Regions from separate parts of the Homo sapiens genome. Here all the other regions are reported to be linked to region 4. The links are microRNA targets in miRTarBase. Many come from high-throughput screens and were not tested one by one. Region 4 holds a microRNA gene; each other region holds the end of a gene's coding sequence.
What was found. The annotated mature microRNA hsa-miR-1277-5p reads AAAUAUAUAUAUAUAUGUACGUAU and lies in region 4 at 2,351-2,374, shown strand. An mRNA with a match to its seed (bases 2 to 7 or 8) in the 3' UTR can be bound and repressed. Matches are read on the target gene's strand: a 7mer-m8 pairs with bases 2 to 8, a 7mer-A1 pairs with bases 2 to 7 and ends in A, and an 8mer does both.

Region 1: miRTarBase lists PRRC2C as a target of hsa-miR-1277-5p. The part of its 3' UTR that is shown has no 7-base or 8-base seed match.
Region 2: the mRNA of YAF2 is a reported target of hsa-miR-1277-5p. The part of its 3' UTR that is shown has no 7-base or 8-base seed match.
Region 3: miRTarBase lists PUM1 as a target of hsa-miR-1277-5p. Seed matches in the 3' UTR shown: 7mer-A1 at 3,103-3,109.
Region 5: miRTarBase lists AKAP8 as a target of hsa-miR-1277-5p. The part of its 3' UTR that is shown has no 7-base or 8-base seed match.
Region 6: miRTarBase lists ZNF512B as a target of hsa-miR-1277-5p. Seed matches in the 3' UTR shown: 7mer-m8 at 3,333-3,339.

The regions. Positions count from the first base shown.
Region 1 is chr1:171,591,292-171,595,380 of GRCh38, reverse strand. PRRC2C (proline rich coiled-coil 2C) reads right to left here. Exons shown (of 35, transcript NM_001387844.1): 35 at 1,870-3,794. The coding sequence ends at 3,534. Among named protein-coding and RNA genes, the nearest start is that of MYOCOS, 29 kb to the left of the region's middle.
Region 2 is chr12:42,156,926-42,161,014 of GRCh38, forward strand. It overlaps YAF2 (YY1 associated factor 2), which reads right to left. Exons shown (of 4, transcript NM_005748.6): 4 at 179-3,901. The coding sequence ends at 3,664. Among named protein-coding and RNA genes, the nearest start is that of GXYLT1, 14 kb to the left of the region's middle.
Region 3 is chr1:30,929,449-30,933,537 of GRCh38, forward strand. It overlaps PUM1 (pumilio RNA binding family member 1), which reads right to left. Exons shown (of 22, transcript NM_001020658.2): 22 at 2,058-3,894. The coding sequence ends at 3,763. Among named protein-coding and RNA genes, the nearest start is that of SNORD103A, 4.3 kb to the right of the region's middle.
Region 4 is chrX:118,384,051-118,388,139 of GRCh38, forward strand. MIR1277 (microRNA 1277) reads left to right here and starts at 2,344; the gene lies at 2,344-2,421. WDR44 (WD repeat domain 44) reads left to right here. Exons shown (of 20, transcript NM_019045.5): 3 at 3,290-3,364.
Region 5 is chr19:15,351,421-15,355,509 of GRCh38, reverse strand. It overlaps AKAP8 (A-kinase anchoring protein 8), which reads left to right. Exons shown (of 14, transcript NM_005858.4): 14 at 140-2,125. The coding sequence ends at 595. All of the region lies in intron 3 of LOC124904643 (a long non-coding RNA gene), which reads right to left. Among named protein-coding and RNA genes, the nearest start is that of BRD4, 21 kb to the right of the region's middle.
Region 6 is chr20:63,956,153-63,960,226 of GRCh38, reverse strand. ZNF512B (zinc finger protein 512B) reads left to right here. Exons shown (of 17, transcript NM_020713.3): 17 at 88-3,523. The coding sequence ends at 339. It overlaps UCKL1 (uridine-cytidine kinase 1 like 1), which reads left to right and starts at 3,811. Exons shown (of 15, transcript NM_017859.4): 1 at 3,811-3,967. The coding sequence starts at 3,855. It overlaps UCKL1-AS1 (UCKL1 antisense RNA 1), which reads right to left. Exons shown (of 1, transcript NR_027287.2): 1 at 3,242-4,074. RefSeq lists enhancers at 1,852-2,737, 2,738-3,625, 3,655-3,714 and silencers at 3,045-3,254, 3,845-4,074.

The sequences.
Region 1 (4,089 bases), not on the chromosome of region 4:
CAAGTATCTACAGTCAACTATTAACTGCAAAACCTTTTGGGTTATTCTGTCACATGTCAGAGAAGCCATGGACAAAACTACATGGCCAACTGCAGAGACACTTATATACATTATCTTACTTTCATTCGATATGCTTTTGGTGCCATTTTTCCATTGTAGGTTCTAGCGAAGGACCCAAAGTATTAGTGGTATTTTAACAGTTAATACAACCAAATAGCACATGCCTGCTGGTTTGCAAGTGGGGGTAATGCAAGCTGTATAGCTGGTCACCCATTAGGTCTTAAAATTTAGGAGGATTAAACTTAAAAACTAGAATATGAAAAATACTGACAATGGCAGTGACTTAGTAAGGCAAGTACTTGATTCCCATTCTTATCCATCATACCTCTTCCCCCAATCCCCTGCAATAAACCACAGCTTTTAATTTAGAGCATATTTTGAGAAAAACCCTAGACTGAAAACTTGGATCAAGGCAGGGCCTATTAATACGTATCAGACCTGGTGCGGTGGCTCACGCCTGTAATCCCAGAACTTTGGGAGGCTGAGGCAGGTGGATTGCTTGAGCTCAGGAGTTCAAGACCAGCCTGGGCAACATGGAGAAACCCTGTCTCTACCCAACACAAAACCATCAAAACTTGAGTATCTTGTGTTTAACAATCGCAGTATCCATGAGTTAAGAAGGCACATGCGTCATTAGTGACTAAATGACTAGTTTTCTCAAAGCTGGGTCTGGAAGCCGTATGTTCTGAACATGGGATTAAGTAATTACAATCCCTCAGTATTTCATTTCATAAATTGAGTAAATGATAGAATAAATGCCCTATAGCCTTTTAGGGCAGGTGATGTTCATGAACATGCTAACAAAGCTATGAAAAATACAAACATAAATAATACTGAGATCTATTTTTGGTCCTTCAGCTTCTGACCAAAAGATGGTGAAACTCTTCTACATCTGGCACTGTGCATCAAGAGAATTTTACTCCTTGACATCTCCTGCTTCGGCCTCACAAGTAGCTGGGACTACAGGCATGCACCACCACGCACAGCTTATTTTCGTATTTTTAGTAGAGACAGGGCTTCACCATGTTGGCCAGGCTGGTCTCGAACTCCTGACCTCAGGTGATCCGCCCACCTCAGCCTCCCAAAGTGCTGGGATTATAGGCATGAGCCACCACGCCCGGCTGACAGATTTGTTTTCAATATGAGTTTGGCTACTTCAGAACAGGGGCCATGACTATCTGCCATGACAATAGTTACTTTAGTTGAATGATCTCCAGAGTTCTTCAAAGTGAGAAGTCAAGGCTTTGGATGATAATCCTTTTCTAGAGTATAATGTAATTTTTTTTTTTTTTTTTTAAGACGGAGTTTCACTCTTTTGCCCAGGCTGGAGTGAAGTGGCTTGATGTTGGCTCATTGCAACCTCTGACTCCCGCCCCAGGTTCAAGCAATTCTCCTGCCTCAGCTTCCCAAGTAGCTGGGATTATAGGCACCTGCCACCAGGCCAGCTAATTTTTGTATTTTTAGTAGAGACAGGGTTTTGCCATGCTGGCCAGGCTGGTCTCAAACTCCTGACCTCAGGTGATCCACCTCCCTTGGCCTCCCAAAGTGTTAGGATTACAGGCATGAGCCATTGCTCCCGGCTGTATAATGTACTTTTTTTTTGTATTTTTAGTAGAGATGGGGTTTCACCATGTTGCCCAGGCTGGTCTCGTACTCCTGAGCTCAGGCAATTCACCCGCCTCGGCCTCCCAAAGTGCTAGGATTACAGGCATGAGCCACTGCGACTGGCCAGTACTCTTGACCACTATTTTTAATACATGACAAACCCTCTTGCTTCAGATTTTAGGAAATGATTATAAGCTCCAAGAATCATTATTTAGAGAATACTTTATTAGTTTCTGTAATCAAACCCATGTAGATAAGACCTTACATATTTAATACAGTGCGTTACCCCTGTACAAATGGAAAAAAATTAAGTTTAACGTTTCTAGACCAATATGGCTGTTAATTTCTGTACAATGCCAACTCAACACAGTAAACCGGGATACTTTTTCCAAAGTTGACAGCACAGCTAAAGTTTCCAAAAATTCAAATTATATATATATATGTATATATATATATATATTTATATAAAAAGACCAATAGCAGTATGTTATGCATCAATAGCAGCAACAGCTTTTCCAGGTTCTGCAGTCATCTGAATAAAATTATAGAGACATCCAGCACACTCCATTTAAAAAAAAGGGGGGAAAAAGGTAAAAAACAAAACCCCAGAAAATTGCAAAGTTCTGTTACTGTTGTGGTACCTGGCACCGTTTTTTAAAATTAGCTTCTGAATCATCATCTGGAAAGAAAACATTCTAGAATAACATCATTAAAAACAGCTCTGATAAAGCACGGTCACTACTACGTATCATAAAGCAGGTACAAGATATTTTACATTCACAGAGGTATGATACAGTACTGTCCTATATCTATAATACTAGAGGATACAATTAAAAAGGCATTATTTGAGACTTGATTCTACTTTTCCAGCAGAGGGCCCAAAGGATGGCATGACACAGCTCTGTAAAGAAATGCACCTTCTTAGGATTTCCTTTAATTAGTGGCACAGTTCTAGGTACTCACTGTTCTTCATAAACACCAGCTAAAAACTGGTATAAAAAAAAAAAGAAAAAAACCCCCAAATCATGGGATTCATACAAAGATGACTGAGTGGGGGCAAGGAAGACTCAACCTAACCAGCATTTTACCAAATCTGTCATGTTTGAATCGTGAGAGCTCCATGGAAGAAAGGAGATGCTAAGTAGCGCTTCAAAGCTTCAGACCACAACCAAAACACAGCACCATTTCAAATAGAAGCAGTAGCCAAACACTGCTCACTTTGATATGGTTCAAGGATGCTGACATCAATATTTATCTGCTCATTCATCCAGGAAGAAGGGGACATCAGTTACTACTGTACTTTGATTGTGTTCAACTCAATCACCATGTTATAAAAATAGCAAGCTGCCATAATAAAAAATAAGGCTCCTCTATCCAGCACCAGTTATCTTCAGTTCTTTACCTCCAAGCCTACAAATGCCATAACCATATCCGAAGAACATAAGGGAGCAAAAAAACCGCATCTGATGTAGTAGCTGGGACCATCACACTGTTCAGGCTGAGCTATTCCTCTGCTGTGTTATTTTCCTTATATTTTTGGTGTTTCATCTAATCATAAGGATTTTTAGGTCTAAATTATATGCACTCAAAAAAATGGGTGCATACATTTATATATAAATTCTGACTGAAGATGCATGGCCATCAACCAAGCACATGTTATATAGTAGGTACAAGCTTGCAAAGCCTCGTTTTCACTGGTACAGCAGCTGTGTGTCAGTGTAAATTGCTCCTATGTCCCTTGTACATCTCCAAGCTCTGAACAGGATAATGTCACAGGCCATTTTGCCCCTTTGGCTGCCAGCATTATCTGACTTAATTCTCCATGTTTTCCCGCCCCCCTCCCAATCCCCTGCAATAAACCATAGCCTTTAAGATTTTGTTTCTTCGGTTTTGATCGCCTGAGGTTTGATTGGTCCAGTTCTAACAGGTTTGGTGGCTATGGAGGGTGCAGGGGGTGGCTTTTCTTCTACTTTTTCCTGACAGACCCCAGGAGGGTCGGTCAGTGTTTCAGGAGGTTTACTTGAATCACTGTCCACTTTCTGGGCTTTGCCTCCTCCTATCTGTTTGCTCTGTTGCTGTTCAGAGAAGAACCGTTGCGTGGACTGAAGAACCTCTGCTCTCTGCTTTGCCTTAAAAAATGAGAAAGAACAACTGAAAATACTGCAGCATTACCAAAGCCTGTCAAATCAATCTTGGTTCAAATTCTTTTACCAATCACAAATCAGTTTTCCCCACACTGGTTTGGCCAAAGCCAAAAGTACCTCATTGATCTTTGAGCTTTTAATGAATAGATTTCTTCCTATTTTTGAAATATTTCATGTGATTTAAAAAAAAAAAAAAAACCACAGGACCACCTCCCACCACCTTTTCAAGGTCTGCCCTCTCATATTAAATTTTATTTAGGGAACCTGCTTGCAAATCTAA
Region 2 (4,089 bases), not on the chromosome of region 4:
CTGCTTTCACTTAATTTTCAAAGTACAGTGCGGAAACTTCTACCAATGACTTACTAAATAGCTCAGTTCCTACATCAAGTCCTTAAAAGATTCTGGAAAAGAGGTAAGTAGCAGAGCAAAAAAGTATCTCAATCCACTTTTTTTTTTTTGCTATAACAGAATACCTGAGACTGGGCAATTTATAAAGAAAACAGATTTATTTTGGCTTATGAGTCCAAAGGCTGAGGAGTCCAAGATCAGGGAGCCCATCTGATGAGGGCCTCATGCTGCTTCAACTCATGGTGGAAAGCAGATGGTGAACTGAGGAGGGCAAAGAGAACAGAACACAAGAAGCATCCTCACTTCATAACAACCCACTCTTGTGAGAATTCATCCATTCCTGCAAGAGCGAATCCATTCCAGAACTAACTGAGCCTCATGAGAAAGCCTTTAATCCATCTCAATGACCTAATCACCTCTTAAAGGCACCACCTACCAACACAATCAAACTGGGGACTCAGGCCTCAGCATGAGTTTTGGTGAGGACAAACCATATCCAAACCATAGCAGGAAGTTTAAAAAAGCGAGTGGCGGAAGCCTCAGTGGAAACGAAAACTTCTAGACCATTTACCATTAATGCAGAGGCTACATTCTTTCAGTCTATAAGGATCTTTATCTAAAAGTTAATAAACATGCTATCAACTTAGAAAGGCTGAAGTTTCTCTTCCTTTTTAAATGTTTTCACTTTGTCTATTATCCACTATCATTTTAGGAAAGCATTTAATAAAAATAAAACCTTTATTTCTATTGTATAATACAAAAGGTTTTAAGAATATTCTTCTGTGCCTCAAATTATATTCACTTTTTAAATATACATATATATATATATGTATATTCAAATTTTTTCATAGAGATGAGCTTTCACCATGTTGCCCAGGCTGGTCCTGGGCTCAAAATATCTGCCTGCTTCAGCCCAAAGTGCTGGGATTACTGGCATGAGCCATCACACCCGGCCTATCTTCACTCTTACTTATAGCAAAGTAAGGTAATAAATGCTGGAAAACATCCAAATTCTTTTTGTATGGAATTTGGCTAAAAGAACCCAGTGCTCAAACCACACTGTAAGTTCATGAAACAGAGAAAAACATGTACCCTAAACCTAGGTTCTGAATCTTTCGCATATTTTAACGTCAGTTCTGTTTATGGAATTTGGGTCTGTTTTCCTGGTGTGGAAGTGTACTTGAAGTAGGGTGAAACAAAGGCAGGTTGAGATACCTGTGATTAATAAAAGTAAAATAATTTCAAGTCAACTTAATTCATTTCTCCAATCTCATAGTGCACACCCACCAGGTTCTTTAATTATGGAAAGATGGTCTTTCTGCATCCAGAGAAAACATCTGATATTACACTGAAAATTTAGTGAAATCTATAAAACACTATTACTTTAGGTCATCCAAGAGGGCAGGAAAATAACTGTTACAAAAAATATTTTTGTATTTTTGTAATGGGATTTTACCTATAACAATGGTAAAAGCTCACATTTACTGAGTGACCAGTATGTGTCAGATAATTAAGAATTTTACACGGATTGACTTAATCCTCCCAAAAACCCTATAAATTAGATGTGATTACCATTATTAGCCCTGTTTTATAGATGGAAAGTAAGCTTGGGTAATTTAAGCTCATTTCCATTCTACAACAGGATTCAAACATGAGGTGTCAGTTAGCACGCTTAATCTCCATGCTACACCGTGTTCCCGTCTATGTAGAAAGATGAGTATCTTCCCACCTATGTAGAAATATGAGTATGCTCCATTCAGGTAAAATCCCATCTCCTGTCAGATTTTTCTCTCTTGCAGCTCATTTAAAATACATCCTGAAAGTTATTTGATCATAAGATGTAATTCCTTTAAAGCATAGTTTTTGACTTAAAAATTAAATATTTTCCCTATTACATTTTTAAATTTTTACTATCTCCAAAAATGTATAAAACATTTGAAACATGTTAAAAACAGAATAAGACAAAAAAATTCATGTTTTAAAGGAACATATCTGGTTAGCTGGTATTCCATTGAAAGTATCTTATAATAAACACAAATTTTAATTTTTCATTTAACAACACTAAAGAATGAGGTATATAAATGTTTTAATCACAGACTTTTACTGTATGCAATTAATTGTATTTCACAACTAGCATCTTACAAAAAAGACAGTACCACTGTGCCTGTAAAAAGTACTGTAATTAAACAGAAAATTACATTACCACATGAAACCACCAAATATCACAACTGTTAGGGTCTACAGTTTTATTTTTTCTTCAAATGTTATCATGATGTCTTATGTGATATTTTGCATCCACATTCTATTTTTAAGTTCATTTACAATTCAGAAGTCTCCTTTAGGTAGATATATATTAAGCAAATGGTTAAGAGAAAGCAGGAGACCCCAGGAGAATTTAAGTACTGTGTGGTTTCTAGGTTGAAATTCTAAATACAACATAAAACTCTTTAAATAGTTGTAAACAAAAATGCAAAATCTGTAGTCATAAAAATATTTTATTGGTAATTTTACATAGTATAAGTGGGGCTATACTTTTTTCCTTTCAGGATACTGAGAAATGTGTAAACTGGCAGCTGTGTCTGAAAATAGGGTACTATGATTTTCATAAGAATTATTGTATTTAATAAGAAGCCAATTTGACTGATTTAAAATTAGTTATTTCCCATTTCTGTGCAATAATTCCCATTTCTGTTTTAATTAGATTCATACTTCTATGGCCCTGGATAAGTTTGGGACAAGAAAACAATGATAAAACTATCATTAAGTTAAAGCTTTTCTAAAATTGCAGCTTGTAAAATATGGCAAGTTTCTTTTCTCTTGTTTTTGCCAAATGCTTATAATTATTTGAATTTTAATGTTTTATATGATACAGAAAATACCAGTGTTCAATGACAATAGCACTAAACCTGAATTATAAAGCTAAATAATCAATGTTTTATTGTTTACTAGTCCGCTAGTAAACATTACAATAAATGAATGTTTTGAAAAATAAGCAAACAAAAAAACCTCAAAAAATAGATAAAACCAGAAACATAATTCAGGAACAATAATTAGTAAAACGTGTCAAAAACATTGGCAAAGGTTCATACAAATTCTTTATTTAATAACAATTTTCCTATTTAACCACACCAAGTACCAGCAGGTGTATTTAAGAGGATAACCATTAAGAAAAACCTGTTGCAGCAATAGTTAAGTTGTTCTTTGACTTGTATACATATAACTATCTGTTTCACAATTCTCAAATAATACATATTTAGGCAGCTTGCACTATGTTATAAAAAATTTAAATTCGTTACATGCCAATAGTAGAGAATTCAAGAATTATGTGTTAGAATTCACTAAACTAAAAGTGAAAATACACTTACCAATAACACTGCATAATGAATAATTCAACCACATTTTCATGGCACTTAACTGCAGAGACCAAAATGTTAAGTCTGGAAATGTTTGGTAGGCATCATTGCAATAAAATCTAACAAATTCTAACAAATTTCTATTTTATGTAAAACTCAAATTATGGATTGTGCATGAATGTATCTGTCATGAAAATGTGGTACCTCTTGGCATAATCTGTGTATTTGCATGGTAGGACAGAAGTGACTAAGAAATTGGAGAAAATAAACTTTAATGAGATTCTCCATTCAATGATGAGGCTTCTCCTCTGGGTGAAGATGACCTGGACATTCCTCTCTCTGTGTTATCAGAGCTAGAGCCGCTTTGACTGTGTTGATCTGCAGAAGCAGCACTAGATGCAGGCGGTGACTTTGTTTTCTCCTTAAAGTCTGTAATAATGACTGTCAGATCTCCAACAGTAACTTCCAAATGCTGAGCACTACTCCGATCCACATTTTTCAATCTTGGCCTAAACATAAAAAAATGAAATTTTAAACTAGCTTTTCCCTCTACCAAATTTCTGAGCATATAATAAATAATAAAAGTGGTAAAAGTAACAAAATGAATACATGTATTTAAGGCAATTTATGTGTAACTAGCCACAAAAACATCATAAAATGTTTCAACTCATTAACATTAATCAAACCAATCATTCAT
Region 3 (4,089 bases), not on the chromosome of region 4:
GGCAGATGCCAGACCTCTGGTCTCTGGGTGGGATTCCTGACTACACTCCTGAGCCCTTCAATCCAGGGGAAAGCCATCCCAACCCTGACCTTGAACCCTTAGGCCTCCATAATACTCGCTTTAGGTGGCAGCACCCTCGTGTGGCTACAGATGGTAACTACATAAAGTTACAGGTTTCCTCCCTCAAAAGGATGCCTCACTCCCCAGGGCCTCACCCTTCTGCAATCCCTCTGAGCCTCAAAAAGAGAAGATGGCCATTCATGGGGCTAATGGCGGGTGGCAAGGGCAGGATGACATGGACAGGGCACTGGGCTGGGAGTCAGGAACCCTCAGATAAAATCCTCACTTGGTTACTGACTGCGGGGCTTAAGTCTCAAACTCCTCATCTGTATAAAGGGCTGAAACATCTCTCCCTGACTCCCTAAAGCTTTCTACAAGGACCAATGGTATCTCAAATACAAAGTACTCTGTAAACTGTAAAGCACTGTGAGAGGGTAAGGGTTATTACATAAACTGAGGAATGCACATTGGAGGGACTCTGGAAGAGAGACCAAGAATGCCGGTACCCAGTGTGTGACGACAGCCCGGGCCATAGAATCCTTGGGACGGACTTGGTAGCAGAGTAATGGTGGTCAGAAGAGGGGGTGGCCCAGAGCCCAGGCCACTCCATGAAACCCAATCCTGCAGATGGAGGGGTCTGCCCCCATGCCCACCCCCTCGCATGATGAACTAAGGGGAAAGCTTTATTGATCAGAGTTGGTCTATCAAAAGACTTGCATCAGATCCTAGGACCTATTTCCACATCTATGAGATAGGGACAGCCGCATTCTTCACAGGGCTGTTGGTTCCCAGAACAGTTGTTGAGAACATGTGAAAACCATCTCATGTGTGACTTGACGCAGAGTCGGTTCACAACAAATGACATTATTATGTAAACTAATGAACAAAGATAGTTTTGTTCATCAAAAACTGTGCAGGGAAACTGGTATCATTTATTACACCAGTGTGCTGGACACAATTTAATTGCCATAATTTCCCATGACATGACAAGAGAGCCACTTTACATAGATCTGTTACCTTTGGTCCACTTCCAGCAAGGAATTTGGTGAAAGATGAGGTGAACTAACTTGCCCAAGTGCACACAGAGTGGCGAGACCCACATGTGACCCCAGGTCAATCTGACTGGAATCATGCTATCAGAGCAGCATGGACTGCAGTTCCCAATGCCCGCAGCATGCCACCTCTGCAAGCGCCATGATGGCTACTGCAGTGGGGAATGCTGGGAAAGGGCCCCAACGACAGCTGCTGAGGCAAAATCACATGCTGGACTGGAAACCTGCATCCCCTCAGCTTCCTTTTCTTCTCCCCCTATTCCCAGGGCCTGTTAGTGATTAGCCCTTCCCCTTGAGGGGCCCATGTGAAGTTCCTTCAACCATCCTGACGCTCCACTTCCAGACACCAGCTGGTGTGGGCTTCCACCTGGCCTCTCTGGCTGGACCCAGCCTGTAACTGCCAACACTTACCAAATCTGCCCCTGGAGCAAAGTCGGTGAAGAAGGGCAGATGGCATCCTCAGGCTAGGGCCACGGGCACAATTGTGAGCTCCAGCCTCCTGTGTTACAAGCTAAAAGAGGCTCCCCAGTCTGAAGAGATGAGCATGCTCAGACATTGGACTGCTTGGCAGGCCTCAGTAGTGGGCACAGGTTGGCAGGGAGCAAATGGAGCAGCCCAAACAGAGGAAACGCGGAGGAGGAGAGGCCCAGACAGACGGTGCTGTAACCCAGACAGCTCATCTCAGGGGCCCAAGGAGAATATTCTGATGTGCAGAGTTGGAAATCTGGATTTGTATGTGCAGTATCTTGATTCTGAATGCACTGGGCAGGCTGAACCAAACATCTTTGGTTTAAATTGGGCTCAAAGAGCCATTAGTTTGGCACCTCTCCTCCCACCCTCACAAAACAACAAAACAAGCAGAAAGAAGCATGAGCAGGAAAGGGCTGTCCTGGGGAACTACACTGGGGGTGGGGTGGGGGGAGAGGTTAAAATAAAGCACAAACCCAGATTCCAAAGTTCTGTATTTTTCAAAATAAAGATCACACATTGTTTAGAGACAATCTACACAAGAGTTACAAAAAATAGTTGCCCAGGCATAAGCATACACAGGTTTGTTAATTATACACATATGGTTACAAGTGTGCTTGCAAAAAAGTTCATTGGAAATATACACAAGGCTCTGGAAATGTACACCGTGTAGTGTTACAATTCTATATTCAAACAAGGAAAATTGACAGTATGTTACATTCACTTACAAGTAGACAAAATGCAAAATACAGTTCATCTTCTGTACAAAAGGGAAGGGCGATTCACACTTTACAAGGTGAGAGGGGCTCTGATTGTAAGGAAAGCTCGGGCAAGGCTAGACTTTTGCACGTCCTTTTGACTGTCACAAAATCAAAACATTACTTTTTTAGGATTAAAAAAACACTAGTGAGAACTCAATCTTGAATAACATTTAGAAAGAATCTCGCTATACTTGAGACTAGATGACAAATAAAACCAAGCTATTTTTTTCTTTTTAAACATTAACTAGGCTGTATAAAGAACATTTATTCCTTCAAAAGAAAAAAATTTACTTCTGGTTGAAATTACAATTTACAATATACAACACTATATGCTACGACCATAAAAGGTGAGAATATACACTGAATGCACAGGGCTGGCTAATTCTCTTTTCTTACCAAAAAACGTGTTTATGTTGATTCAAACTTCTCCACATTTACATTACAGGTATACAAATGTACAATTGTACAATCAAAAGTATGTTCGACTACTAGGGTACATTATAGATACAGATTAGACATCAAAACAAGAAAATACTACAAATTTGTATATATGCAAAGTCTACACCAAGTATACACTATATATTTATAGAAGCAAGACCAAAAGCAGAGTTGGATTTTTTTTTCTCATGCTAAATAATCAGATTTTACCTTTCAATGTTAATAGAAAAAAATCCAGTAGGCAGTAAACAATCACACCCGCCCAGCCTCAAAAGACGTTCTGGGTGCTCGCATCTCCTCCTCACGAACAGCCTTCTTCAGCATAATATAGTCTCCAAAAAAGGCATTTTTTAGAATTTCATAAACTTAATGTCACAAACTGAAGCTTTAGCAACTCTGAAACCTTTTTCATTATATATATATATATATATATATATATTTTTTATAAACAGTGTTAAATGCCAGTTTGGGGTCATTTAACTACAATTCAAACTTCTCAGGTTTTTTTGTTTTTGTTTGTTTTTTACTAAAATGAGGAGGTGGGGAAGAGCTATTTGCAAAACTTGCCGGCCAGGCAAATGAGCTAAAAACCTTTTCCTTTTTTTCTTTTTTTTTTAAAGCTTTTTTTTTTTGTTAAACCAACCACCCTGAAAGTTTCCACATGTGAAATATAGATACAACAGTGAACAAAATATGTGGCCTCCCATGTACATTGGTTACCTATGTACAAGTATCCTATACACCAGTAAAACAGCAGGGCAATTAGTCAATTAAAAAAAATAGTACATGTTATGTGTAATAAAATTAAATTTACAAAGGCTTTTCCACTCGTGGATTTGATTCCTTTTTTGGAGGAGGGAGTAATCCTGGAGCAACCACTTGCCCGTCTCAGACTCTACACTAGAACATTTCTGGTTGCTGGTTGGATTTGCCAGTGGGCCAGTGAGGTCAGCGGGAATGAGGGAACAGCGGGTGACACTGCCTCAGATGATACCATTAGGGGGGCCACAGATGGGCCCTAAGTCAACACCGTTCTTCATGTAGTACTTCTCCAGCTTGGCCAGAATGTGCTTGCCATAGGTGTACTTACGAAGAGTTGCGATGTGGGGCCGGATCTGGGGAGGAAAGACAGTCTGTGTTACATGGCCTGAGATGAGACTTGGGGGCAGGCTTCCCGGACATGCATTTGCATGTCATGCATCACACACACATACACACACACACACACACACACACACACACACACACACACACACACCCCTACAGCAATACCTTTCACTGGCTCAGCCCAGTCCCCTGACTTCTAGCAC
Region 4 (4,089 bases):
TATTTTTTTTAGAGGCGAGGTCTCACTGTGTTGCCCAGGCTGGTCTCAAACTCCGGGTTTCAGCCTGTGCCCGGCCTTCTTTCATATAAAACCAGGATCCAATTAAAGCCTATGTAAACTTAAGATGTATGTATTAACTGAAGAAAAAACAGAGCATGCATCATTCAACATTCATTCAGCAAATGATTATTTAGTGCTGGACACTGTTTTAGGTACTGAACAAACTGTAGATAGAACAAACAAGGTCCATCTCTCATGGAGCTTACATTCTAGTGGGACAGGGAAGAGACAAAAAATAAGCAAGTAAATAAGGTCATTTCGAACGATAAGTGCAATGAAGGAAAATAGGATAATGTTTTCCCAGCACCATTTATTGAGTAGGGAAGCCTTTCCCCATTCTTTGTTTTCATCAGGTTTGTCGAAGATCAGATAGTTGTAGGTGTGCGGTCTTATTTCTGTATTCTCTATTCTGTTCTATTGGTCTGTGTGTCTCTTTTTGTACCAGTACCATGCTGTTTGGTAACTGTAGCACTGTAGCATAGTTTGAAGTCGGGTAGCATGATGCCTCCAGCTTTGTTCTTTTTGCTTAGGATTTGCCTTGGCTATTCAGGCTCTTTTTTGGTTCCCTATGAATTTTAAAATAAAATTTCCTAGTTCTGTGAAGAATCTCAGTGGTAGTTTAATAGTAATGGCATTAAGTCTATACATTGCCTTGGGCAGTGTGGCCATTTTAACGATATTGATTCTTCCTATCCATGAGCTTGGAATGTTTTTCCATTTGTTTGTGTCATCTCTGGTTTCTTTGAGCAGTGGTTTGTAGTTCTCCTTTCACCTCCCTAGTTAGCTGTATTCATAGGTATTTTCTTTTCGTGGCAATTGCAAATGATGGGAGTTTATTCCTGATTTGGCTCTCTGCTTGGCTGTTATTAGTGTATAATAATGCTAGTGATTTTTGCACATTTATTTTGTATCCTGAGACTTTGTTGAAGTTGTTTATCAGCTTAAGAATCTTTTGGGCTGAGACTATGGGTTATCTAGATATAAGATCATGTTGTCTGCAAACAGGGATAGTTTGACATCCTCTCCTCAATCCCATTACTGGGTATATACCCAAAGGAATATAAATCATTCTATTATAAAGACACATGCACACACATGTTCATTGCAGCACTATTCACAATAGCAAAGACATGAAATCAACCTAAATGCCCATCAATGATAGACTGGATAAAGAAAATGTAGTACATATACACCATGGAATACTATGCAGCCATAAAAAAGAACGAGATCATGTCCTTTGCAGGGCCATGGATGGAGCTGGAGGCCATTATCCTTAGCAAATCAATGCAGGAACAGAAAACCAAATACTGCATGTTCTCACTTATAGGTGGGAGCTAAATGATGTGGACACATGAACCCATAGAGGGGAACAACACATGTTGAGGCCTATCAGAGGGTGAAGGGTGGGAGGAGGGAGAGGATCAGGAAAAATGACTAATGTGTACTAGGCTTAATACCTGGGTGATGAAATAATCTGTGCAACAAAACCCCATGACACAAGTTTACCTGTGTAACAAATCTGCACATGTACCCCTGAACTTAAAGTTAAAAAAAAAAAGAAAAATAGGATAATGTGATAGAAAGTTAAGGAGTCAGCTAAGGCTATTTTGAGATGGTCAGGGAAGTATTTTCTGATAAAATAGCACTTGAGCTATGACCCTAATGGCAAGGAATCATCCTATTGGCCAGAATGTAATTGTGGGGGAGTGATATGAGAGGGAGATGAGGAGTGTAGAAGATATCAAAAATGTAGGCAGAGGCTATGTCATGTTTAGGCCTTCATGGGCCTTGGTACTGTTTGGATTTTATCTAATACTTAAGAGTCCATGAAACATTTTTTTTTTTCTAGAAGAATCTGTGTAAGATTGGTAGTATTCTCCAAATTCTGGGGGAGGAATTCAGTGCTCGAAGATATTGCAAGTCCTACAGAAATTTCACTGGCACGTTAAATCTTTAACATTTTAATAATCTCTGGAGTAATTTCATTATTGAGCCTATTGTGATCATATCCTGATACTTGTATAAGTGCCACCTAAATAATTAATGTGCCTTGAGTCCTTTATCTGTCTAAAATGGTTATAATGACCTTCCTCTAACAAACTCTGTGATGTGCACAAAGAATTATGGTTTTTTTTCCTCAGTATCAAGAGTAGCATTCAAATTGCTGTGCTTCTATAAATAGACAACTTAAGATTGAGAAGAGTATTGTATTGAGATTTGCAAATATATGATTGTCTTATTTTACCCTAATTTTTTCCAGCAGAAATGCAGTATCCATTTCTAACCTCCCAAATATATATATATATGTACGTATGTGTATATAAATGTATACGTAGATATATATGTATTTTTGGTGGGTTTAATTTTTTTCATCTTTTTTCATAGTTTTTTTAGGGGCTTCATTTAACTTCTGGTTAAGTCTTGATTTCTTTTATCTAAAGCATGTAGAATTTTAAGAAAACTATTCCCTGAATGTGGTTTTCTGTGTTATAAACTTTTGTATTTGTGCATATTTATGGAGCAATGCTTTGGGGAAAATAACAATTTTTATTCAGCCCCTTGCTTAAATCCTTAATCCTTTTTAGCTATAAAAGTACGTAGAAGTTCTTATCGTCCATTACAGTTTTTTAATGTTAAAAAGTTGAGCAAGTTTTCACATTTAAAGGTAAATATCCTATTGCAGAATAATAGAATATTGCTGATGGGTAACTTTCTTATGCAAATTACATTGTCCCATTTGGCATAAAATTTCTGAGCATCTATCAGTATTCAGAAATCTAAGCCCTTTAGGCTGGGCACAGTGGCTCACACCTATAATCCCAGCACTTTGGGAGGCTGAGGTGGGTAGATCACTTGAGGTCAGGAGTTCAAGACCAGCCTGGCCAACAAGGTGAAACTCTGTCTGTACTAAAATTACAAAAATTAGCCAGGTGTGGTGGCACGCGCCTATAATCCCAGCTACTCGGGAGGCTGAGGCAGGAGAATCACTTGAACCCGGGAAGCAGAGGTTGCAGTGAGCCAGGATTGTGCCACTGCACTCCAGCCTGGGTGACAGAGTAAAACTCTGTCTCAAAAAAAAAAAAAAAAAAAAAAGAAGAAGAAGAAATCAAAGCCCTTTAAGGGCCTTTGATTTATTAATGCTACATTTTCTCATTTGTACCCCTTTAAAGCATATTTTTAAAGAAAAGATGTCATCATTTGGTCTCTATTTCTTTTCTTTTTCAAACAGGAAACAGAGAACACTGCATACAAAGTTGGAAATGAGTCCCCTGTACAAGAATTGAAACAAGATGTGTCTAAAAAGGTTGGAAAGATACAATGTCAATATTAGTTTATAGCAGACATCATATTTATATGGTATATTTCAAACAGCTTTTATATTCTTTTAGTATAGCGCTCTGTACATGGCTGATGTTCAGCAAATGTTTCATGAATCTGTCACATTTGTGGTTGAAGACATTTCAGTCTTTTTAGAAGTCCTTTTCATATTCTAATTGGTAATTTATCCTTGAGACAATATTTTGTAAAATGCTTTTATTTTTTGTTCTTGTATTTTTATCAGAATAAGCCCTAACTCTTCTTGAGGTTACTACCAGGAGTTATGGGTATTGAAAAGCTCAGTGCAGCAACATTCTGATGTCTTTAGGAATCAGAAGTTATAAGAAGTCCTTACTCTGATAGTACCTGATACCTTTTAAAAAATTGATGCTATGAAGCTTCAAAGGTTGGTTTACTAGAAGAGACTGAGCACAAGATCAGTATTTTGAAAATGGGCAGTTTACAGTATCAGGATAAAACTCAAGGAGAAAGACAGGATGGTGTGTTTTTATTCATTTATACAAGTTTTAAGTGTTTTCTGTGCCCTAGGCAATGTTCTAGCCAGTGGGTTTCCAGAGGCTAACAAAATGACACATTCTCCACCCCAGAGTTTCTCCAGTACTGGCACTCGACATTTTGGGCTAATAGAGGGTAGGGGAAGGCCTGTTGTGTGCATTGTAAGATGTTTTAGCAGTATCCCCAGCTTCTACT
Region 5 (4,089 bases), not on the chromosome of region 4:
GTAGGATTCACTCCTGTGGCATAATTTACAGAAGTGTTTCCCTTGTGGACTGCTGGTTCTGAAAAGCTGACATCCCCGCAATCATGGGCCTCCTGAGCTCTGCTTACACCACGCTGACCGGTGTTTCCTCTTTGGCCAGGGTGAGGACCCTTTCACCAGTGAAACTGTTGATCCAGAAATGGAAGGAGATGACAATTTAGGAGGTGAGGATAAGAAAGAGACACCTGAGGAGGTGGCCGCGGACGTCTTAGCAGAGGTGATTACAGCAGCAGTGAGGGCCGTAGATGGGGAAGGAGCGCCCGCTCCAGAGAGCAGCGGGGAGCCGGCTGAGGACGAAGGCCCCACGGACACAGCGGAGGCCGGTAGTGATCCTCAAGCCGAACAGCTGCTGGAAGAGCAGGTGCCCTGTGGAACGGCACATGAGAAGGGCGTCCCCAAGGCCAGAAGTGAGGCTGCAGAGGCTGGAAATGGCGCCGAGACAATGGCAGCAGAGGCAGAAAGTGCCCAAACCAGAGTTGCTCCTGCCCCAGCTGCCGCGGATGCTGAAGTGGAACAAACTGATGCAGAGTCTAAAGACGCTGTTCCCACAGAATGATGCTCATTTCCCTGTTCCAGGGAAGGCGTTGGGATGATGGATGCGTTGGTCTTTCTCCCTTGGTTTGTAAGCAGTACAAGGGCGTGTGCTCCCAGAATATGCTGTAATCTAATTTTGGTGAAGAGACCCAGCGTTTCCTCCTGAGCAGTGCCTCTCACGGCTTGTCTCATGCAGTCGTGTGGCTTCTTGCCCAGGTTTCAAAGCTGAAGTACATTGTCCTTAGCGGCTGTAACATGTCTCTTGACAGTAGTGCACTTGGAATAATAAAGGTTGGGTGATTATATCTTGATGATACATTACTTGTTCAATACAGCCACTGATGGAATGCTTCCTTTTTTATTTTTTTCCTTAATTTTTTTTTTTATTTGGTTGGGAACAGCTGAATACTAGGAATATATCTTGCTCTATAGAGGATTTTTTTTTGTATGTTTCAAGCTTCAGCCTTTAACCTATACCTTTGTAGTGCACCATATGGTGTGTGACTTTCACAGGACTTCGCAGCACCTGGTTCACATGTGGCACTGACCGCGTCACATCCACGCACTCCCAAAGGCCAGAAGTATCTGACCGACCTACGCCACTGGAAACACACCCACCGCAACCTCAAGAACCAGACTGTGCAGAGGGCATTGCGTCCCAATCTTTAGTCCTTGCTGAATCAGTTCTCTAATATTTTACCTCATTTGTGTTCCACCTCTAGATTACTTCAGGTTTTTTTCCTTTAAAATTAGTTACTACCACTCAAATGTATTTACAAAGAGAATTTGGCCAGGCACGGTGATGCATACCTATAATCCCAGCACTTCGGGAGGCCGTGGTGAGAGGATAGCTTAAGCCCAGGAGTTCAAGACCAACCTGGACAACATAGCAAGACCCCATCTCTTAAAAAAAAAGGAAAGAAAACTTGATGTGATTGCCATAGGTGGAATAATCCAACATAAATTGCCATAGATAGAAGGTATCTGTAATATATATATATATATATAAAATGAAATATATGTTTCATTTTAGAGAAATAACTATTACTTTAGATCTTTCCAAATCTGAGAAAGGGAGGCTAGCATGTGTTCAAGGTTAGCACGCAACAGAATTTCCTAAAATCAGAAGAATTGGAAGATCCTCCCCTTTTGAAATGGCCCTGCTGTGTCAGTTTCCCTGTGGCCTTTTGAACTGTACATCTCACATGTTGGGAAACGCTGGCCACTGGGAAATCATTAGAAAGGAGGCTGTAGAATATTTGCCGAGCCTCTACTGTATACCAGGGGCTAACTCACCAAGCACATTCTAGGAATTGGGCCCTGCTCATGAGGAGCCTTAGTGGAGATTCCAGGTGAATATTTATGAAAAAGTCAACATTAGAACTGAAAATGGAAATAAACTGCTTGAAAAGACGATGGTGCCTCTGGGTCATTTCTGCTCAGCATCCGTTTGTGTTGTGTAGATGCGTCTTAATCGCAGGGTGAGCATGCCTTTTAAGCTTGTTCTCTTAAGGCAAAAATGTCGGTAGCATTAAACAGTAGTGCAGAAAAACATCACTAGTGGAACTGCTTTATTTCCTTAATTTTCTTTTTTTTTTCTTTTTTTTTTTTTTTTTGAGACAGTCTTACTCTGTTGCCCAGGCTGGAGTGCAGTGGCGTGATCTTGGCTTACTGCAACCTCTGCCTCCCAGGATTACAGGCATGAGCTACTGCACCTGGCTCTCCCCTACCCCACACCTTTTTTTTCTTCTTATAAAAATCCAAGACCCGGCCAGGCATGGTGGCTCACACCTGTATTCCTGGCACTTTAGGAGACCAACGCAGGTGGATCAGTAGAGGTCGGGAGTTCAAGACCAGCCTGGCCAACATGGCAAAACCCTGTCTATACCAAAAATACAAAAATTAGCTGGGTGTGGTGGCACACACCTGTAATCCCAGCTGCTGGGGAAGCTGAGGCAGAAGAATCGCTTGAACCAGGGAGGCAGAGGCTGCAGTGAGTCGAGGTTGCGCTACTGCACTCCAGCCTGGGCAACAGAGCAAGAATTTGTCTCAAAAAAATAAAATATCAGGCCAGGTGTGGTGGCTCATGCCTGTAATCCCAGGACTTTGGGAGGCCAAGGCGGGCAGATCACAAGGTCAGGAGATCGAGAGCATCTTGGCCAACGTGGTGAAACCCCATCTCTACTAAAAATACACAATTAGCCAGGCGTGGTGGCAGGTGCCTGTAGTCCCAGCTACTCTGGAGGCTGAGGCAGGAAAATCACTTGAACTCTGGAGGCAGAGGTTGCAGTGAGCTGATACTGCATCACTGCACTCCAGCCTGAGCGACGAGCAAAATTTCGTTTCAAAATATGTATATGTCAATCCAAGACCTGTCATTAAATTGGTCTGAATGTCAGTGAGGCTCTTCCACCTTCCACCTCTTGGTGAAACTACATAATTCTGTTGTTGTTGTTGTTGGTTTTACAGGCAGGATCTCACTGTTGCCCAGGCTGGAGTGCGGTGGCACCACAGCAGCTCACTGCGGCCTCCAAATCCTGGTTTCAAGTGATCCTCCCACTTCAGCCTCTTGATTAGCTGGGACTACAGGAGTGCACCACTATGCCCAGCTAATTTTTAAAAGCCTTGTAGCCAGGCATGGTGGCTCATGCCTGTAGTCCCAGCACTTTGGGAGGCCAAGGCAGGTGGATGGTCTGAGGTCAGGAGTTCAAGACCAGCCTGGCCAGCATGGTGAAACCCCGTCTCTACTAAAAATATAAAAATTAGCTAGGCATGGTGGCAGATGCCTGTAATCCCAGCTACTCGGGAAGCTGAGGCAGGAGAATCGCTTGAACCTGGGAGGTGGAGGTTGAAGTGAGCTGAGATCACGCCACTGCACTCCAGCCTGAGCCAACAGAGCGAGATTCCATCTGGAAAAAAAAGTCTTGTAAGCCGGGCGTTGTGGCTCATGCCTGTAATCCCAGCACTTTGGGAGGCTGAGGCGGGTGGATCACCTGATGTCAGGAGTTAGAGACCAGCCTAGCCAACATGGTGAAACCCCGTCTCTACTAAAAATACAAAAAATTAGCCAGGTGTGGTGGCAGGTGCCTGTAATCCCAGCTACTCAGAAGGCTGAGGCAGGAGAATTTCTTGAACCCAGGAGGCGGAGGTTGCAGTGAGCCGAGGTCATGCCATTGCACTCCATCCTGGGCAACAAGAGTGAGACTCCATCTCAAAAAAAAAAAATTACTTCTATGTTTTATTCCAATAATTTAATAATGTTAGCTCATATTTAGGTCTGTAGTTCATTTTAATTTTTGTTTGTTTTGTTTTGTTTTGTTTTGAGACGGAGTCTGGCTCTGTCGCCCAGGCTGGAGTGCAGTGGCGCGATCTCAGCTCACTGCAAGCTCAGCCTCCCGGGTTCACACCATTCTCCTGCCTCAGCCTCCCGAGTAGCTGGGACTACTGGCGCCCGCCACCACGCCCAGCTAATTTTTTTGTATTTTTTAGTAGAGACGGAGTTTCGCCTTGTTAGCC
Region 6 (4,074 bases), not on the chromosome of region 4:
CTGACAGGTCTTCAGCTCTCAGGCTATGCCTGGCTCAGGTGCTCAGCATCCAGTCCCAGGTCTTCATCAGCGCTTTTCTCTCCCCAGAACTGGTTCCGAACATCAGCAGACCCACCTCCCAAACACAGGAGCCAGGACTCATTGGTGCCCAAGAAGGAAAAGAAGAAAAATCTGGCAGGTGGAAAGAAGCGGGGCCGAAAGCCCAAGGAGCGGACCCCAGAGGAGCCTGTGGCCAAGCTGCCCCCGCGCCGGGACGACTGGCCTCCAGGATGCAGAGACAAGGGGGCCCGGGGCTCCACCGGCCGGAAGGTGGGAGTCAGCAAGGCGCCTGAAAAGTGAGCATGGTGCGTGGGGCCTGGCCCCCATGCAGCCGCCACACCGCCCTCTGTTCAAGGCAGGGCCAGCTCCGGGACCTCTGTCCTCCAGTTCTCCATCCCCCACCCCCGCCTCTTCATCCGTCCAGTGGGGCAGCCAGCCACTCTCCCTTCCCTGAAGGTGGCCCTTCCCCTGTTAAGGCTGCCACAGGGCACACCTGGGTTGGGGCTCCCCAAGGTGTGCCCAGCAGAAGTGCAATAGCCAGGAGGGTTGCCCCTCCTCATGGGAATGTGTCTGGGGTCTTGGTGCCACAGGGGCTGCAGCGCAGAGTAGGCAGATGGCCTTTGGCCCCCCGGCTCCGCTTCCTCAGGCCCTGCCGGGTCCCTTCCCTGGCTACCCCAAGGCTCAGGCATCCCTGGTGACCTGTGGTTCTGGGCTGGTGAGGGCACCTGAGCAACCTGGCACGGGCAGCCACCATCCTGGCCTCACCTCCACCCAACACTGGAACTCCAGCACCCCCAGCTACCTCCCAGGACAGACCCCTGTCTGACCACTGCCATGCTGACCTGACAGGCTCCGGCCTGCCCTTGGCCACCCACTTGGTCCCCTTGCTTCTGTTTTCTACCTCTCCAGGCCTGCCCACTACCCCCACCCCTGCTCCTCCTTTGTCAGTGCGATCCCTGCTGTGCTCAGGCCCTGCCCCCCAGGCCTGTCTGTAATTCTCCCAGCTTGGGGCAAGGGAGGGGTTTTGCTTCTTGTACCTACAGGGCAGCAGAAGCTTGATGCCCTTCAACACAGCTGCCAGCCCTGGGGGTGTGGGGCCCCTGGAGTGTGCTCTCCTCCAGTGTTCAGCCTTCTGGCACTGCAGGCCTAGGTTGGAGCAGCCTCGTGGAGTAGGGACGGACTAGTTCGGGCCCTGGGGTCTTGCTGGGGCCCATAGGCATGTGGGGCAGGAAGCTGGGCAGAGCTGGCCTGGCTCTGAGTGGCCACTGGGGGAAAGGCAGCCTTCTGTCTGCCAATCTGGGTAGGCCCAGTGGCCAAGCTCTCATGGGAGCCCCCTCCCCACTTTTTTTTTTAACCTGCCCCCATTGTTTCTGGTTGTGTGGTCATTTGATATGGGAACTGAAGGCCAGCCAGGGGAGGGGCTTGGCCAAAGTCACAGCAGGTTGATGGCAGCTCCAGAGCTGTCTTTGCCCCTTTGTGGCCCTGAGGACGGCTGGGTCTATAGGTAGGGCAGGGGTCAGGCAGGGAGTCCAGGGTGCCTGGAAGAGGTGGCCACAGCCTGTGGCTCCCTCCCTGGGGTCCTGCCTTCCAACCACGGCATTGCAGGGAGGATGAGGCTCAGAGGGGGTAGGTTTGGAGGGAGGCCATTTTCCAGGGTGGGTGGGAGTGGGCTGAGGGCTCGGCCCCACTGACCCTGGACGATGAGAATTTTGATGTTTGCCCGTGTGCGTGTGTCTCCTGGGTGTAGTGGATGCCAGTCTTGTTGCTGTGACAAGTAACAACCTTTTTTTTAAATTGTTTTTTATACAAACACTCGCAATCCGACATTTGGTGCTAAGGGTTTCCTGGTGCAGACGGTGGGCCTGGGGGCTGGGCTGGACCAGGGCGTGGGTCTCTGGGGTTGGGGTCCCTTGCTGCTCAGGGAGGCAGTACTGACTGGGCACTGCCTCTGCCCCCAGCACCCACCCTCCCCCATTCCCCAGGGAGAAGGGGCCCCACTGGGCTTGGCCTGCAGTAGTAGGGAGACAAGTTCCAGGAGCACTTTGGGGACTGGGGTTGCAGAACACTTCCTGTCTCTGGCTTCATCCTTGGGCCAGAAGGCTCCAACCCTCAGCAGCCCTTGCCAGATGTGCCAGGGAGTGGGTGTGGAGACCCGGACTCCCCCCACCCACGCACACCTCGGCCTGATGAGAGGATGGAGGCTGGGGCAGAGATGGGCGTGACCCAGCGTCAGAGGGTCGGGGGAGGCATTCCTTCCTGTGTCCCAGAGCTTCACTGGTGGAGCTGGAGGAGCCGGAGGTGGAGGGTGGGGTCTGGCAGCTGCTGCTGGGGCAGCCTCATGAGGGGAGGGGAGGGGAGGGGAGGGGAGCAGGCACTGGGCGGGGGCCTAGGTGCACTTTGTCCTTGCCACCAATGGCGGGAGGAGGGTGGACCTGAACACCTGCAGGGTGTGGTGCCTGCCCCAGCCTCTCAGGTACTTGGCCCTTGGGGAGAAGAGAAGAGGGTCTGGTTTTTGCTGGGGGTGAGTTTCCGGGACACTCCCAAAGCCCACAGATAATCCCTGGTGTGGGAAGAGGAGTCCTGGATACCTTGATGTTTAGCACTTTAACCCCCTTTGTCTTTAAGGTAGGCGTGGGGGCTACTGCCAGAAGTGGCTGTTGGGTCTGACCCCCTCCTTTCTGCCCTCCCTCTGCCACATGCTGGTCCGCAGAGCCCTCCTCCCAAGGGGTGGGGCCCTGGGTGGAGCTCAGCAGGGTCTGCCCACTCCCTACGCTGGCCCACATAGGCCTCCAGGAGCCCTCAGTGAGAGGGACCAGCATAGCTGACCCCCAGAGTGTGGTGGGCGCCGGCCCTGCCCGAGGCCCAGTCGGGGCCCTTTCTGCAGATCTACCTCTGGCTCAGCGCACGCCCCCTGCCCTGAGAACAGGAAAGGGCCCGGAAGGGCTGACTCACCGGGCCGACGCTCACACGAAAATGGGATGCACTTTATTTGCTGGTGCAAAGGCAGGTGAGGGTGCCTCCTGTGTGACCGTTGGCCCTCCTGCCTGGTGGCGCTGAAGGGAAGGAGCCAGTGAGCCTGACCCCGGGAGGGGCCGTCCCCGTGTGCCGCGTTTGGCGGGGCCCCAGGCGGCTCCCCCAGGCCCGGGTCTGGGGCCCCAGGCTTTCCCCTGCCTCGCGGCCGGGCGTCCCGTGCTTTGGGTTTCTTGGTTTGGGTTTTTTAATGCCAGTTCTCAGTACATAAGTGCATTTTGAAAGAGGTTCCAGCTATCACTTGTAACCATATATATATACATATATATTCTATCTACAAAGTGTTTATTTGCGAGATGTTTCAACGGTGAGTTCGGGCCCCGCCCGCCTTGTGACCATCTGTCCCCGGTCCTCGTCCCCGCCCCGCGCCCTGGTCCCGAGTGGCGTGGGGACGGGCCATCACTGTATGTATTAAAATGACTGTATCAAATAAATGTTTATTGATTTTTTTCCAGGGTTTTTGTGCGGCTCAGTTTGTGGTGAAAAACAGGGGGCGGGGCCCTCCAGGCACGTGGCGGAGGCTGCCGAACTACGGGTCCCCCATGCCCGCCGCGCGGCCTTGTGGGGCTTGTAGTCCGCGACGCGCGGCCTTGTGGGGCTTGTAGTCCGCGACGCGCGGCCTTGTGGGGCTTGTAGTCCGCGACGCGCGGCCTTGTGGGGCTTGTAGTCCGCGACGCGCGGCCTTGTGGGGCTTGTAGTCCGCGGTGGGCAAGAGAGGGACCCGCCAGCTCCCGGCGGCCCATGCGCGCCGCCCGGCCAGGCCCGCAAAGAGGCCTCCGAGCGCCATGGCTGCGCCCCCGGCCCGCGCGGACGCTGATCCTTCGCCCACGTCGCCACCTACGGCCCGAGACACACCAGGCCGGCAGGCTGAGAAAAGCGAGACCGCGTGCGAGGACCGGTAGGCGTGGGCCTCGCCTCCACTCCACTGGCGAGCGGGAAGGGGCTGCAGATCCGGCCGAGCTGGGCGGGTGGTCCGTCCCCGCCGCGAGCCCAAGTCCCCCACTC